2 separate regions of the Homo sapiens genome follow, and region 1 is linked to region 2. A link means that fine-mapping ties the variant in region 2 to the expression of a gene that starts in the linked region. Tissue or cell type: whole blood. Region 2 holds a variant in brackets; the other region holds the start of a gene. All regions are shown on one strand. Distances are from middle to middle.

Region 1 (8,103 bases), 110 kb after region 2:
GCCCACTCCCCCAGACACCTCGTTCTGTCTAGACAGGTCCTGGGATTCCCAGTATTTCATCTCTAGGTCTCATCTTCTCCCATCCCACCTAAGGCAGAGACATTAGTGAAGCAGGGGACTGGATCTAGAGAGAGGGTGGCTTTGGGAAACAGTGAGGGACGTCCAAGGGCAGAGGGAAGCAGTGGAGTGAGTGGGAGGAGAACGAGGGGAGACAGTAATTCTAGAAGAGGTCTAAGGAGTAGGAACTGCCCAAGTAGGAGAGAGCACTGGAGGTGCCAGTCCACTGGGAAAGAGAGACTCTGTCATGAATAATAATATCACCACCACCATCTAATGTTGATTGAGCCCTTGCAATGTGCCAGCTTCTGTACTGAGCTCTTTGCATGGATTATCTAATTTAATCTTCACAACCACTATTTGAAGTAAGTACTATTATTATCTTCATTTTATAGAGGAGGGAACTGAGGTTTAGAGAGGTTAAATAATTTGCCCAAGGTCATAAGCTAGTAAGTGACTGAACTGGGATTTGAATTTAAACCTGGGCAGTCTGACTCCAAAGCCACGTACTTAACTGCTGCACAGTACTTCCAAAGGCCTGTCTGCAGCTTTTCTGCAGTCCTCATTCCCCTGCAGAATTTGACAGTATTGATGCAGCCCGCCACACTCTCTCCCTTGGCTTCTCCAACTCTACAGGAACATATTTCCCTCCCCACCCGCTCCAGTGGCTTTTCCATTCCTTTTGCTGAAGCCTCTTCCTGTTCCCACTGCCTAATTCTGCACGTTCCCGAAGGCTAAGGCCTTGACCATCCTAAGTTTCTCTCTTTACTCCTCTTTTAAATAAAAACAATAGCAATAGCATAATAATCATAGCAGCTAACACTGATTGAGCACTTAGTTTGTGCTAGGCATTATGATTATGTAATATGATCTCACAACCTTGTGAGCTGGTGTTAATACTATCCCATTCTCAGCCTGGGCAACATGGCGAAACTCCATCTCTACTAAAAATACAAAAATTGGCCGGGCGCAGTGGCTCATGCTTGTAATCCCAGCACTTTGGGAGGCTGAGTCGGGCGGATCACAAGGTCAAGAGATTGAGACCATCCTGGCCAACATGGTGAAGCCCTGTCTCTACTAAAAATACAAAAATTAGCTGGGCGTGGTGGTGTGCACCTGTAGCCACAGCTACTCTGGAGGCTGAGGAAGGAGAATTACTTGAACCCAAGAGGCTGAGGTTGCAGTGAGCGGAGATTGGGCCACTGCACTCCAGCCTGGGGGACAGAGTAAGACTCTGTCTCAAAAAAAAAAAAAAGAAAAAGAAAAAAAGAAAAAAAGAAAAAAAAAAACTATCCCATTCTACAGTCAGTAAAACTGAGGTTCAGAATGGTTAAATAACTTGCCTAAGATCACACAGCCAGTACTTTGGAACATCAGTTTAAATCCTGCCAATCAGATGCAGGATGCAGTTCAACACCCTGCTGAACTCTTCAAGCTTATCCATGCTCATCGCTTTAAATACCTCTGCTAGAGGCAGTGGAGCCATGAACTCTGCAGGAGTCGAAACCCTGGATTATCCAATCAACTAAGTAGCTTTGTGACCTTGGACAATTCACTTAACCTCTCTGCGTCTGTGTTTCCTCATCTATACAATGGGGACAATGATGGGGTTGCTAAGATCTGAGGTCAAGTGTAAGTCAGGTGTTTAGATGGGGGGAGGTTTTCTCCCCATCTTATGACCTAGTCACATCCAATCTTGCACTTTCTCAAATGCTCCTTTCTAGCCCTTGTTCATGCTACTTACTTCAGTCTGGAATGTTCTCTAAGACTACTTTAAAAATCTTGCCAATAATTCTTCAAAGCCCAAATTATATGTCACCTGCTCCAGGTTAAATCCCTTTTTCCTCTGCTCTCTGTTTTTCTGCCTAACTCTGGTTGGTCCCTTAGGCCCCATCACATCCAGGAAGGTCTTTCTTGATACTTGGGCTTCCATGCAAGCAAAATGCCTCTGACACAGCTCTTCTCACACTGTATAGGGTAACTGTTAACTTGTTATCCTTCCTACCAAACTATGAGCTCCCCAAGTGTGGTAACTGAGTCCCGTGTCCCTGACACCAGGCACAGTACCCAGCACATAGTAGGTGCTCAAAAAAAATTTTTTTTTTGTTAAATTGAATTTTTTTTTTTTTTTGAGATGGAGTTTCACTCTGTTGCCCAGGCTGGAGTGCAGTGGCGCAATCTCGGCTCACTGCAACCTCTGCCTCCCAGGTTCATGCCATTCTTCTGCCTCAGCCTCCGGAGTAGCTGGGAGTACAGGCGCCCGCCACCACGCCCGGCTAGTTTTTTGTTGTTTTTTTTTTTAGTAGAGACGGGGTTTCACCATGTTAGCCAGGATGGTCTCAATCTCCTGACCTTGTGATCCGCCTGCCTCGGCCTCCCAAAGTGCTGGGATTACAAGCGTGAGCCACCACGCCTGGCCCAGTCTGAAAACTTAAAAGTGCAATGCAAATGTGTGTCTGGGTCCCTCATTTGGGGGGAGCAGCTGTGGTATAACGATAAGTCTGTTTAGAGTCAGATGCAATGGGTTCAAATCATACCTTAGGCACATACTGTGTCAACTTATATAAATTACTAAACCCTTCTGAGGCTTAGTTTTTGCTTTCTTATTTGTTAAATGGAATAATAATGTCTACCTTGTTGGGTTGTTGTGAAGGTGAAATGAGATTGCAGATAGAAACATCTGCTACAGTGCCTGGTGTGTAGTCAATGCTCAATACATGTTTATGGCTAAATATGGTTTGATGTGGGTTATTTAAGTTGAATAAGGCTGACTTTCCCCAAACTTTTAGCTCTAGCCCACCTTCCAGGCTTCAGATTCTAACTATCTGTAGAACATTTTGGGCTCAATGTCCTACTGGTATGCCAAATCACCATATCCTTTTTTTTTTAAAAAAAATATTTATTATTATTTTTTAAAACAAAACAAATAGGCCAGGCACGGTGGCTCAAGCCTGTAATCCCAGCACTTGGGAGGCTGAGGCAGGTGGATCACAAGGTCAGGGTTCCAGACCAGCCTGGCCAAGATGGTGAAACCCCATCTCTACTAAAAATACAAAAATTAGCTGGGCATGGTGGTACGTGCCTGTAATCCCAGCTACTGAGGAGGGTGAGGCAGGAGAATGGCTTGAACCCAGGAGGCGGAGGTTGCAATGAGTCAAGATCATCATGCCACTGCACTCCAGCCTGAGAGATTGAGCAAGACTACATCTCAAAAACAAAACAAAACAAAACAAAACAAATAAAGCTTTAGCTTTAGCACCACATGCTAAAGCATCATCCTCACTGGAGACCAGCTTCCTCTTCCAACCCTCTGCCTCTGTCAGTGGTGACTTCCATCCAATCACAAAGGCCTGAATGCTGGAGTCATCCTTGACTCATGCCTTCTCTTCTCCCCCACCCCCAAACACCAGTTGGTCACCATGGCCTGTCAATATTTCCTTGAAATTACCTCCCCCATTCTCCCTTTCTCTCCACTCATACTGCCACTGCCACCAGCCCCGTCTGGCTTTTGAGGCTTCCCTCGGGCCTGCATTGCTAGGACAGCCTCCTAACTGTCACCTTCCTCCTGCCTCTGTTCCCTTTCATCCAGTTGCCCCACTCACCTTCCTCAAACACTGCTCTTACCAAGTCACTCTCCTGCTCAAGAATAGACAGTGGCGGCTGGGTGTGGTGGCTCATGCCTGTAATCCCAGCACTTTGGGAGGCTGAGGCAGGCGGATCACCTGAGGTCAGGAGTTTGAGACCAGCCTGGCCAACATGGTGAAACCCCATCTCTACTAAAAATACAAAAATTAGCCCGGTGTGGTGGCACACGCCTGTAATCCCAGCTACTTGGGAGGCCGAGGCAGGAGAATCGGTGAACTGGGGAGGTGGAGGCTGCAGTGACCCAAGATCGTGCCACTGCACACCAGACTGGGCAACAGAGTGAGACTCCGTCTCATAAAAACAAACAAACAAACACACGAATAGACAGCACCTCCTTATTTCATATTGTATTAAATCTAGACCACCTTGCCAGTCCTCCAAGCCCTATCCCACTGATGCTACCCACCCAGCCGTGGACTGCAGAGAGGTGAAACTTACAAACAGGCATGCTTATTTTCCTGCTCATTCCCTCTTTCTGGATTCAGCACCTACACCCCTCCTACCTCCCTACTGTTACTACCACCAATTTAAGTCTCATTACTTCTCTAGATGGTAGGGCGATTCACTGTAGGACTAAATGAGATAATTCATATAAAACACTTAGCACAGTGTCTGGCCCGTAGCAAGACCTCAGCAAATATTAGCTATTATTATTGTTGTTAACACTGTACCAGATGGCCCACAATACTCAAAATTAACTAGAATTAAGGAAGATGGGGTCATAAGAGGAGATAAGGAATTAGAAACAGAAGAAGAGGGCAGAGGTGGGTCTGAGAGAGAAAGGTCGGGTCACAAGAGGATGGAGAAGGCAGGCAGGCTGCTACTTACGGTGCTGTAGTTGCTGAAGAGGCCAAGGGTAGGGGCTGGCTCGAGTGGGAAGGGCAGGATCTGCTTGAGGTCCAGTGGGGGCTGCATGATCGGGGGCTGCCGTAGCAGAGGCAGGGGCCCTGCCCGGCTCAGGCTGCCTGAAGGGCAGAGAAAACATTCTGTGGGGTAGGAAGATTAAAGCTTGGGAACCCCACCCAAGCCTGCCAGTCCCACTCCCTAGCCAGGGCCCCCACACTCAGAAGTGTCACCCTCAGTGCACATAGTGTACACACTTCCCCTGCTGGCTCCAGAGCAATGGAGCACAGTGCCCTGTGGGCCTGGGGGAGGGTGTAGACCAGTCCTTCCCTTCTGGGTGGTTTTCACTTCCCCCTTTTCCAGCCTCCCTCCCCCAAACTCCTTAGGCACATTACAGACCCAGTAAGAGCTCATACCTTTTCTGCAGGCTGCCTGCTGAACCAGCAGGACTCCCAGCCTCAAGCCCCTGGCCACCCTCTTCTTCTGGTTTTGCTTTCCCCCAGGGGATCCTAAAGCTTGGTATCGCCCCAGGAAGAAGAGAGTCAAGTGGGTGATTCATCCTACTGACCAGAGGGGGATATTGAGACTTAGATTTGGAGGGGGGCTGCTGAATCTCTCAGATGCCCTAGAATTAGATTTTGCTCTAACTATAATTCTTTATTAACTATTGACATCTGTGGGGGTAGGTAGTGGGTTGGGTGGCTTTTGCTCTGGGAGGTGAACTACCTAGGCCATTCTCAGAGCCCCTTCTCCCAACCTTCCTCAGTCTTCCCCCATGCCCTTTTGTCTCACCAGGAATGCTCAGCTACAGGTCCAGTTCTGCAGGAGGAACCTCGACCTGGCCTATGGGCGGGGAATGCCTGGGTCTGACCCCAAGGGGAAATGAAAGTCCAGGCCAGCCATTCAACTACCCTTCTCTGAAACCTTCTCCTCCTCCTCTCAGAGTCACGGGAGGAACTCCACCAGACTCCAAAGGGGCAGCCCAAAGGTCCTCAGAGCCCTTCTGGGCTTCCACTGGCCCAGCTCCCTTCTGCGACCCTGCTGTGCACCAGCTGGGGAGTTCTGGCCGCCCTTCACTGCTCCAGTAACCCCCTGACAGCAACAGGGGTTCCCAGGAACAAAGGCAAACCGAGGAGGCTGCGTGCTTGGCCCGTCCTCCCTTGACTTTACTAGAGCAGAAGGTCTCCAGGATCCCTTCCTGTTCCCTCCAGACACCACCCCCTTTCATACCTTTAGTTTCTGATGCCTGCTGCCCCCAGGCAGTGGCCTGGCCCTGGCCCCCCAGGGGCCTGGGCCTGACAGCGTCCCCTTCCCTTGGTTCTGCCCTCTGCCCCCTCCCTTGCCAGCCCCCTCCCCCTCAGCCCAGTCAGTAGAATCAGCCAATCAGAATCCTGGAAAAGTGGGGCAGAGGGGAGGGCAGGGGAGCAGGGATTAGGGGAATCTGAGGCGACAGGGAGGGGGTGGGGAGGGCTCAGGCACAGCTGGGGGCTGGGAGCTGGTCCAGAAAGGTCTGGAGGGGTCTGTCTCTTTCACCCCATGCCAGGATGGGTGGTCAGGGTGACTGAGACAGAGCAGGGGGTCAAGGCTACTGGGAGTTTGGGCTTCAGAATTCTCAGGGCTAAAGGAGAGGGTAAGATCCTTGGCTTTGACCCTTAAGTAGCTGGGGGTCTGTATGCTTTGTGTCTATTCCCTCCTCTGTCACCTTCAAGGTTGGGATGGGGTGGAGAGAGGACACACACACACACACACACACACACACACACACACAGAGAGACGGACAGATGAAAGTGAGTGAGAGGATGGGAGAGTGGTAGCAGCAGGAATAGGTGACTGAGGAATCGGACAGTGACACTGAGAGAGAAAAGGATAGAGAACAATGGAGAGATGTCAGAGAGCGAAATCAGACATACAAACAGAGAGACACTGCCGAAAAGCTGGACACAGAACTAGAGACTAGGGCAGACAGACCGAGAGACAGAGAACAGAGACAGCGAGAAAGATAAAAGAGAAGAGAGAGGGACAGATAGATGGATGGGGCAGCTTGACCACCTCCCCTTCCTGGTCTGTCCCCTTATGGCATCTGCCCTCTGTGCCCCACCCTCCCTTACTGCCTGTTACCCAAGGCCAGGGCAGCCTTAATGAGCCCCAGGCGGCATCAGGAATGGTGAGAGAAACCTGAGTGCTCCCAGAGTCCCCTGCACCCAGCATCCACCCCCAGCAGCTGGTTTTGGGCTGGCACTTGCCCTGCCCCAGAGCACCAGAGGCTGAAGCTTGGCTTGACCCTTTCCCTGGTTCTAGATTTCTCTAGGCTCCCACTCCTCAAAGCCATCTTAAGAGGAGACAGCAGAGTTCCAGAAAAAGCCACAGAAAAAAATTTGAGGCTACTATGTGCCAGGTAATGAATTCCAAGTATTATCATATTTAACCTCTGAAGTAGCTCAATGAAGTAGCCATGATTCAATGAAGTAGCTGATAATATTTTTCTACTTGACTTATGAGGAAATGGAGACTCAGAGTAGTTAACAAACTTGGCTGATGTCACACAGCCTGTAAATATCAGAGCTGAGATATAGATCAAGATCTGCTGGACTCTACAGCAAATTCTTTCTCTGCTACCTTACTCCCAAAGGGCTTGAATTTAACTGAAGCAGAGATCTGAGCACAGGCTTCCATCTTGTTCAAGGAGAGGAAGGGGAGAGCAGGTTCCATGCACTTCCTCAGGTTGGAGTCCTCATTTTTCCTCCAGAGGAGGGATAGAGGAAAACAGGTAGCAGCCACTCAGTTATCTATGGCTAACAACTCATCTTTTCCACAGACATGAGCCCTGGGTGAGCGGGGGAGGGGAGGGGAGTGGAGTGGGAGAGAGGGGTCAAATGAGGGTACAGTGAGGGAAGGAAGCAGGCAGGCAACTGGAGACAAACTATCTACTTCCCAGATTCCTGGGTCCACTCCATTCTGAGGTGGCGAGAGAGGCAGATGGCAGCTTTTGGGCCGGGTGGGCAGAAACAGGACTCTTGGTTTCAGGTAGCCCAGGCCTTAGGCCTCTCCCTCTCTTTTTCTGAGGCTAACAATAGTTGCCGCTTTTTGAGGCTTTACTATAGGCCAGGCACTTTACATACACAATCTCCCAGTAGGTGGTCCCACCACTCACTAGCTGGGTGAGCAGCTAGGTTCTCTGACTCTCAGTCTCATTTCTCATCTGTCAAATGAAAACAACACTACTTGCCTCACCAAGTTGTTGACAGGATTGAACAAATCCATGTAAGATGCTGGCATGTCACAGTGAGAACTCAATAAATATTTGCTGAATAAATGAATCTCATCTTATAGATGATGACAATTGGCTCAGAAGGAGAGTTATTTGGCCAAGGTCACACAGTTAGTGAGTGACGTGAACCTGTCTGTCTGGTTCCAGAGACAGGGCTTTCAAGCACTACACTTTTCTGGGTAGATCTGGAAGGGGAGGAGGGGAAAAGGCAGGAATATAGGAATGGCTGGGGAGGCAGGAACTGAGTAGGAAGTGTGGGGCTTTTGACTTCTAGCTAGGTAAAATCTCCA
Region 2 (8,103 bases):
TACTGATCCAAAAAGAATTGTGTTTCAGATAACCCAAAGAATGTCTAAAACCTTTAATCCCTCATTTCAAAGGGTAAATTGAGGCTACTGCAGGATACAATTTGCCCCAAAGAAATTGGCAGATCTGAGAAGAGAAACTCAGAAAGATCTAATATTTACATAGCTGCTAACAAGAACAGTGTAGGTTTTTCTGCAAACATGCTAGTTGGTAGAGCTCCTGGACAGACTAAACATAGGCAGCAGTTGTCACAGTGGGTGTTCTTCCAGCACAAGTGTAAAGCTGTCATCAGAAATGAATATGTGGCTTCGAGTGGCTTACAGAAATCCAACAAATCTGCATCTTGGACTCTGGACAAGCGAACTCTTCTCAGGATGACCTGGACTCCTTCCTATTAGTACAATGATCAGTTAAAATCATTCTCTATAAGCAAGGAAGAAAAATAAAAGTTTATATCAGGAGAAAAAGATGATTGCCCAGAGTCCGAGTTCACGAATAGCAGATATGTAAACAGCCATACTAAGTCAAGTGGTATCTCATGTTGTAATTTATTACTTTTAAAATCAATATCCATAACACAGCTTTAGGCCCAGTTTCATGTAAGATGAATGGAAATAAAAATAATCTAAGTAAAAGGACAAAATAAAGACTAGAAATGCTTTACCAGGACAGTTATTAATTAAATGGGCTATACCAATAAGATATGGAAATCATGCTATGTGGTTAAAGACCTCAATAGAGCCGGGCACAGTGGCTCATGCCTGTAATTCTAACACTTTGGGAGGCCGAGGCGGTTGGATCATGAGGTCAGTAGATTGAGACCATCCTGGCTAACACGGTGAAATCCTGTCTCTACTAAAAATACAAAAAAATTAGCCAGGCATGGTGGCACGTGCCTGTAGTCCCAGCTACTCGGGAGGCTGAGGCAGGAGGATCGCTTGAATCCGGGAGGCAGAGGTTGCAGTGAGCCGAGATCACGCCACTGCACTCTAGCCTGGGTGACAGAGCGCGACTCTGTCTCAAAAACAAACAAATCTCAATAGAAACAAAAAGCGACTTAGTCTTCCTCAAAAATCTTTGTACCCTGATACCAAACCTTTCTCTTTTCTAGAGTATTGTTAAGGGCTCTGAGAATCTCCAGAATTTCCCTAGCCATATACAAATCCAGCCGCTTCAAATGTAGGCTCACTCTTTCTTTCCCCAACTATCATCCTGCTCACCTACTACCCAAATTGAAGCTTTCCACTTACTAGTTTTCAGACAGAATATATTCCCCTTTAGTAAACACCCCTTTTAGATTTGGTTGCAATAGTAGGTATGTCTCTAAGTTTTTTTTTCTTTTTTGAGACAGTCTCGCTCTGTCACCCAGGCTGGAGTACAGTGGTGCAATCTCGGCTCACTGTAACCTCCGCCTCCCAGGCTCAGCAATTCTCCTGCCTCAGCCTCCAGAGTAGCTGGGGCTACAGGCGTGTGCCACCACGCCCGGCTAATTTTTTGTATTTTTAGCGGAGATGGGGTTTCACCGTGTTAGCCAGGATGGTCTCAATCTCCTGAACTCATGATCTGCCCGCCTCGGCCTCCCAAAGTGCTGGGATTACAGGCATAAGCCACTGCGCCCAGGCAGTATGTCTCTAAGTTCTAAGCACAAGCGTTATAACTTCTGTAATTAGAGGCCCAACACGTATCACATTGGAAGTTAGGATTTCTAACTCTGTGATAGTACCAGAATTTCAATGAAAAATTACCCACTAAAATTTCACCACCAGAGAGAAAAGTTCATCATATCTATTAACTACCACATTGGAGGCTGGGCACAGTGGCTCACACCTGTAATCCCAGCACTTTGGGAGGCCAAGGCAGGCAGATCACCTAAGGTCAGGAGTTTGAGGCCAGCCTAACCAACATGGAGAAACCCCGTCTCTACTAAAAATTAGCCGGACGTATGCCTGTAATCCCAGCTACTCAGGAGGCTGGAGCAGGAGAATTGCTTGAACCTGGGAGGCGGAGGTTGAGGTGAGTCAAGATCGTGCCACCGCACTCCAGACTGGGCAACAAGAGCGAGACTCCATTCCAAAAAAAAAAAAAAAAAAAACCTATCACATTGGGAGACATTTTGCAATATTTTTATTGTTTTCCCTCTTTAAGCATTGTGAGACTTCACAATAAAACAAGCAGTTTTCACTTGCACACGACAGTAAACTAGAAAGTCTCGGTTTGGCTCCTATAATCTTTCAAAGTAAAACACATGAGTAAAAACACCAAATAATGGGTCACTGCTTAATCTGTTTACATAGATACTCCTTGATGGGGTTATGTCCTGATAAACCCATCATAGGTTGAAAATATGAAAAATTGAAAATTCATTTCCTACACCTAATCTACTGAACATCATAGCTTAGCCTAGCCTACCTTAAATGTGTTCAGAATACTTACATTAGCCTACTGTTGGACAAAATCACCTAACACAAAGCCTGTTTTATAATAAAGTGTTGAATATCTCATGTAATTGGTTGATTACTGTACCGAAAGTGAAAAACAGAATGGTTATGTGGATACTTGAAATATGGTTTCTACTGAATGCAAATTGCTTTCCACACCGTTGTAAAGGTGAAAAATCTTAAGTCGAAATATCACAAGCAAGGGACCATCTGTACAAGTGGCTGGGGCTGGAGATGGAAGGAACTGACTCAGAAAGCAATCAAAGTTGGCATGATTTGGTGACCTATTCTTCAGATCAGCAGTCTTTTTCCCCCAAAACCCTGGGTCTATAAACAGCTGTGAAATCAGTTCAATGGAAATTGACTGCTTTCTTAAGACAATGAAATAGTATACTGCAGACAAAAGAATATCAGAGTACTCTGCACGTTTAGTGAAATGTTTCAATGTGTGTACAGGATTAGTGTAAAATATATTTCTTATTGCGGTCAAAAAAGTTTTGAGACGTGGATCCAAAAGAATCCCAGGAAAAGAAAGAGGCTAGCTAGAATCAAGTGAAAAAGAAGGATGTGAGGCAAAGTCTACCTTCTTCAAAAACATATTTGCCATTATTTTAGGAAGCCAAACAAGGACAAGATGCAATCAATCGTATGTGTAAGTTTAAGCAGCAAAAAGTGGTAAAAACTTTTTTTTTCTGAGACAAGGTCTCACTCTGTCGCCCAGACTGGGGTGCAGTGGCATCATCTCGGCTCACTGCAAACTCTGCCTCCCAGGTTCAAGCGATTATCCCGTCTCAGCCTCCTGAGTAGCTGGGATTACAGGCGCCCACCACCATGACTGGCTAATTATTGTGGGTTTTTTTGTTTTGAGACGGACTCTTGCTTTGTCGCCCAGGCTGGAGTGCAGTGGCGCAATCTCGGCTCACTGCAACCTCTGCTTCCTGGGTTCAAGCAATTCTCCTGACTCCGCCTCCCGAGTAGCTGGAATTACAGGCACCCGCCACCACACCTGGCTAATTTTTTGTGTTTTTAGTAGAGACGGGGTTTCACGATGTTGGCCAGGCCGGTCTCAAACTCCTGACCTGAAGTGATCCACCCGCCTCGGCCTCCCAAAGTGCTGGGATTACA[G/T]ACATGAGCCACCACGCTCAGCCCAATTTTTGTTTTTAGTAGAGACGGGTTTCACCTTGTTGGCCAGGCTGGTCTGAAACTCCTGGCCTCAAGTGATCCGCCCACCTTGGCCTCCCAAAGTGCTGGGATTACAGACATGAGCCACCGGCGCCAGACCAAGTGGTAAAAATTTTAATAAAAATTTCCTTTTATTAAATGGAACAATGATCAATTCTGTATCTAAGGAGATAACATCAGGATTTAGTGATCCATTTACCAAAGGCCACTCCCTAAACATTTCAACCATCTTCTCACCTTTACCTATTTTCCAATTGGTAAAATAATGGATTTTGAAAAAATAATAAACTCTAGTGTTCTATTTTTATTTTTTTAGCAATGGGATCTTGTTGTGCTGCCCAGACTGGAGTGCAGTGGCTATGCACAGGCATAATCATCTCACACTGCACCCTTGACCTCCTGAACTCAAGCCTCCTACCTCAGCCTCAGCTTCCAGAGTAGCTGGGACTACAGGAACACGAAACTGTGCCCTGCATACTCCAGTATTTTAAATGAATGGTTTTCAACCAAGGGAGATTTTATCCCCCATCCCTACCTCCCCGGACATTTGGCAATGTCTGGAAACAATCTGTCACAAATGGGGATGTGGCGAGTGATGCGATGTTACTGGCATACAGTGGGTAGAGGCCAGGAATGTTGCTAAATATTTTACTATGCACAGGACACTCCGAGCACCCTCAACAAAGAATTATCTGCCTCAAAATACCAACAGTGCTAATGCTGAGAAACCTTGCTGTAGGTCAAGACTGTATTCCTTCCAAACCTAAATAAATCCAGGACAGATACCCTTAACCAGTATCACTTTAGTTCTCAGAAGCTCAGCAACTCCATTACTAGCATACCTACAAATAGGTTTACAGCCAGGTATAAATTATAGGTTTGTCCTTTTGCTAGTGCCAGAGAACATGGAAATCTCTCCTCTGTTCATAAACTGCTATTAAAATCGTCTGTCTTTGGTATAAAGTCGGAAAGGTCTCTAATTATAAGTGTATTTCATAGGTAGTTGATTTTCAGTATTTAAATATTTTCCCTTGATCCTGAATAAATTATTGAATAAAGCAGTAAGACTCTGATACAGCCAATGTTATCAAAATTTATTTATTTCTCCAAAAGATCCTGGAATAAGCAGAGTGGGCATTACCAAAAGGAGATAGACTGCATGTAAAACACACTTCGAAGGAAATCTAATTAAAAGGCAAGGAATAATCCAGGTGATGGATGAATCTTCTGTCCCCAGAACCCTAAATATTACCCTCTTTGTTTCTTTTTTATTCCAAAGTCAGATATCCTCAAAGGAACAGCAAAAAGAGGGACTTTAGGATATCTTCAATGGTGTAAAGAAAAGAAATATATGAAAGTTCCCGGGAGAAAGAGACTAAAATAAAAGCACTGGGCACATGGATTACATAAAACAGAAAAGGGGTTGTAAGTATGTGATTATGACTAGAAACACAAAACAATCGACTTCATTTTTTATTTAATTTTAATCACAAATTATTAACCTTGCAAAGTTTTAAACATTAAAGATCTAATCTGCCTCGATCCTACTGTGTCCCTAGGATTGACACTTTGGTGTGTAGCTTTCCAAAACTTTTCTGTGGACCTACAAACATATTTGTCAGTAGAAATATGCACTATCAGGAAGGAGATATTTCTTGAACGCCTTTCCATGACAGTACATAGAGATTTCTCCCATTCGTTCTAACATTTTAACAGTCTTCCTAAAGAAGCGACTTCTGAAAGTATTATTTAAAAACAAACAAACAAAAAAAAACAACTCCTGTTCCCCAAACCTCAAGTGGTGAGGGGGCGGGGGAAAAATGCTCAAGTCGAGGAATACAGGAGCAAACTTACGCTTTCAAGGAGGTGTATGGGACTGAGGCCTAAAGGCTTCGTTAGAGAAGTCATCGTGGATAAAACATCCACCCTCACACGCCATTACAGGCACCGACTCCCCTTCCTCACAACCCCAAATCGAAGACCTCCCTCTTTTGGAGAGCCGATTGGACGACTGGTCCCAGCGCTTTCCTTAGGCTGTCCGTCTACTGGTTCCAGATTCGTTCCATCCGTTTAACCGCCCGATCCCGCATTCCCCATTGGAGTCAAACCGCTGCCTCCTGGAGAAGCCCAACCTACCGCGCGCTTCCTGCTCACTGGCTCAGTGAGACGCTGCTCAGAAGGGGAAAACCCGTCTCCCACATTCCGATGGCCCAAGGGCCGATCAGTCGGCAGCTCAAGGCAGACCCAATTGGCCTATACACAAGCCAGTCAAAGTCTTCGGCTGCACAGCTCCAAAGAACCTACGGGGATTAAAACATCCCGCCCCCTGTTCTTCTATTGGTTGGCCCGACCCACCGCTGCCCCTTCACTATCCCCCCACCCCGCCGTCCATTCATTTCACACAATAACGGGCCCAAATGGAGTCAGTTCAAGACCTACTATGGGTAGATAAGACTGTCTGCCACTTACCCGGGATTGAGAGTGATCACTCACGCTAACGTCTGCCCTGTTCCTGTATGGTGAGGCCGCACCACAAGCCACCACCGCCGCCGCCTTCTGCGCAACGCCAACCGCCCGCCAAAACGGATCCTTCCCTGCGCCTGCGCAACCAATCCTGGGACCGGACCTTTTTTCTCCGCCCACTACGCATGCGCAAAGCTAGGACAAACTCCCGCCAACACGCAGGCGCCGTAGGTTCACTGCCTACTCCTGCCCGCCATTTCACGTGTTCTCAGAGGCAGGTGGAACTTCTTAATGCGCCTGCGCAAAACTCGCCATTTTACTACACGTGCGGTCAACAAGAGTTCATTGCAAAAAAATTGTTACCTCCTGGCTGCTTGTCTAATACATAGTGTTAATCATGCTTTGCCAAGCGACTTGACTGTAATATTTGCGCGTGGAAGATTAAAAAGATGTTAAACACCCAAGGTAGATTCAAATGTGAATGATTGGTCGGTTGGCCAATCAGACTGGTTAACAATAACATTACTCGGGAACCAATGGACTCCAAGGGGTGGAGACGGCGTAGAACGACCGAAGGAATGACGTTACACAGCAATGTGGCACCACAGGCCAATAGCAGGGGGAAGCGATTTCAAGTATCCAATCAGAGCTGTTCCAGGGCGGAGTCTACCAATGCCGAAAGCGAGGAGGCGGGGTAAAAAAGAGAGGGCGAAGGTAGGCTGGCAGATACGTTCGTCAGCTTGCTCCTTTCTGCCCGTGGACGCCGCCGAAGAAGCATCGTTAAAGTCTCTCTTCACCCTGCCGTCATGTCTAAGTCAGAGGTGAGTTAGGCGCGCTTTCCCACTTGAATTTTTTCCTCTCCCTTTCCTGAATCGGTAAGATGCTGCTGGGTTTCGTTCCTTGCACCAGCCCATTCTACAGTTCCTTCGGTCGCTGCCACGGCCTACCCCTCCCAAAGTTCAAGTCGCCATTTTGTCCTCTTGATCGCCATGAGGCCGCTCTCCGCCAACCATGAGTTATCATGCGGGACTCGTTACTCGTAGCAAAATTCTTAGGCACACAGGATCTTTGTCTTTTTTTAAACCTTGCCTTGGTGAGCGAGTTTTCTAAAGAGCGATTAGTCCCATTGTGGAGATGCACCCCTACCGCCCAAGCCTTTGTTGCGCGTGCGTCGGAAGGCGACTAGGGACGCATGCGCTTGCGATTTCCTAGCACTCCCAACTCCAGCATACGGCCTCCCTTGATAGGCAGAAGCACGTGTCTTGTTGCGACCTGAACGAACAATAAGTGCTAGGTACACAGTTGGTGTCTAGTTTTTCTTTTCCTCGATGGAAATTGTTTCGTGTTGTAGCCCATTTAACACTTCCCCCTCCCCCCACTCTAGTCTCCTAAAGAGCCCGAACAGCTGAGGAAGCTCTTCATTGGAGGGTTGAGCTTTGAAACAACTGATGAGAGCCTGAGGAGCCATTTTGAGCAATGGGGAACGCTCACGGACTGTGTGGTAAGATTTGGAAGGGACAAAGCAGTAAAACAGCCGATTTCCTTGGCTTATCTTGGTGCAGTCTTCTCCGAATGCTTATGAAAGTAGTTAATAGCATTATAGTTAGAGCTTTGTTGGCAAAGGAACGTCCTGCTTTGATTTTAAAAGCTACCTCTTAAATCTAGGGTAGTGGGAAACTGGACGACTTTTTATAAAAGGCTGGTGTAAAGTTTCCTATTGCCCTATTCAAAGTTAAAATGACAAAAGCTTTTGCGGTCAGACTTTGTGTTACATAAATTAACACTGTTCTCAGGTAATGAGAGATCCAAACACCAAGCGCTCCAGGGGCTTTGGGTTTGTCACATATGCCACTGTGGAGGAGGTGGATGCAGCTATGAATGCAAGGCCACACAAGGTGGATGGAAGAGTTGTGGAACCAAAGAGAGCTGTCTCCAGAGAAGTGAGTGGGTTTTTTTTCTTCTTCTTCTTAAACTTACTTGGATATGTGCTGCTATGGACTTAAGATTCGGGAGTTTTCTAAA

The links. PIP is the estimated chance that this variant, and not a neighbour inherited with it, causes the effect.
Region 1: ZNF385A starts here. The variant in region 2 is fine-mapped to the expression of ZNF385A in whole blood (TOPMed, PIP 0.93).

What each region holds. Positions count from the first base shown.
Region 1 is chr12:54,379,898-54,388,000 of GRCh38, forward strand. It overlaps ZNF385A (zinc finger protein 385A), which reads right to left and starts at 4,836. Exons shown (of 7, transcript NM_015481.3): 1 at 4,531-4,836. The coding sequence starts at 4,617. The region is part of intron 1 of GPR84-AS1 (GPR84, ZNF385A, ITGA5 and GTSF1 antisense RNA 1); the gene reads left to right. RefSeq lists enhancers at 7,393-8,027, 8,028-8,103.
Region 2 is chr12:54,273,921-54,282,023 of GRCh38, forward strand. CBX5 (chromobox 5) reads right to left here and starts at 6,202. Exons shown (of 5, transcript NM_012117.3): 1 at 6,088-6,202. It overlaps HNRNPA1 (heterogeneous nuclear ribonucleoprotein A1), which reads left to right and starts at 6,806. Exons shown (of 11, transcript NM_031157.4): 1 at 6,806-6,902; 2 at 7,466-7,582; 3 at 7,875-8,021. The coding sequence starts at 6,888. It overlaps SCAT2 (S-phase cancer associated transcript 2), which reads left to right. Exons shown (of 2, transcript NR_157844.1): 2 at 4,732-5,143. RefSeq lists enhancers at 5,565-5,654, 5,807-6,566, 6,085-6,134, 6,425-6,514, 6,525-6,584 and 1 more and a cis regulatory region at 5,601-7,901. The variant G/T (reference allele first, on the strand shown) is at 3,562.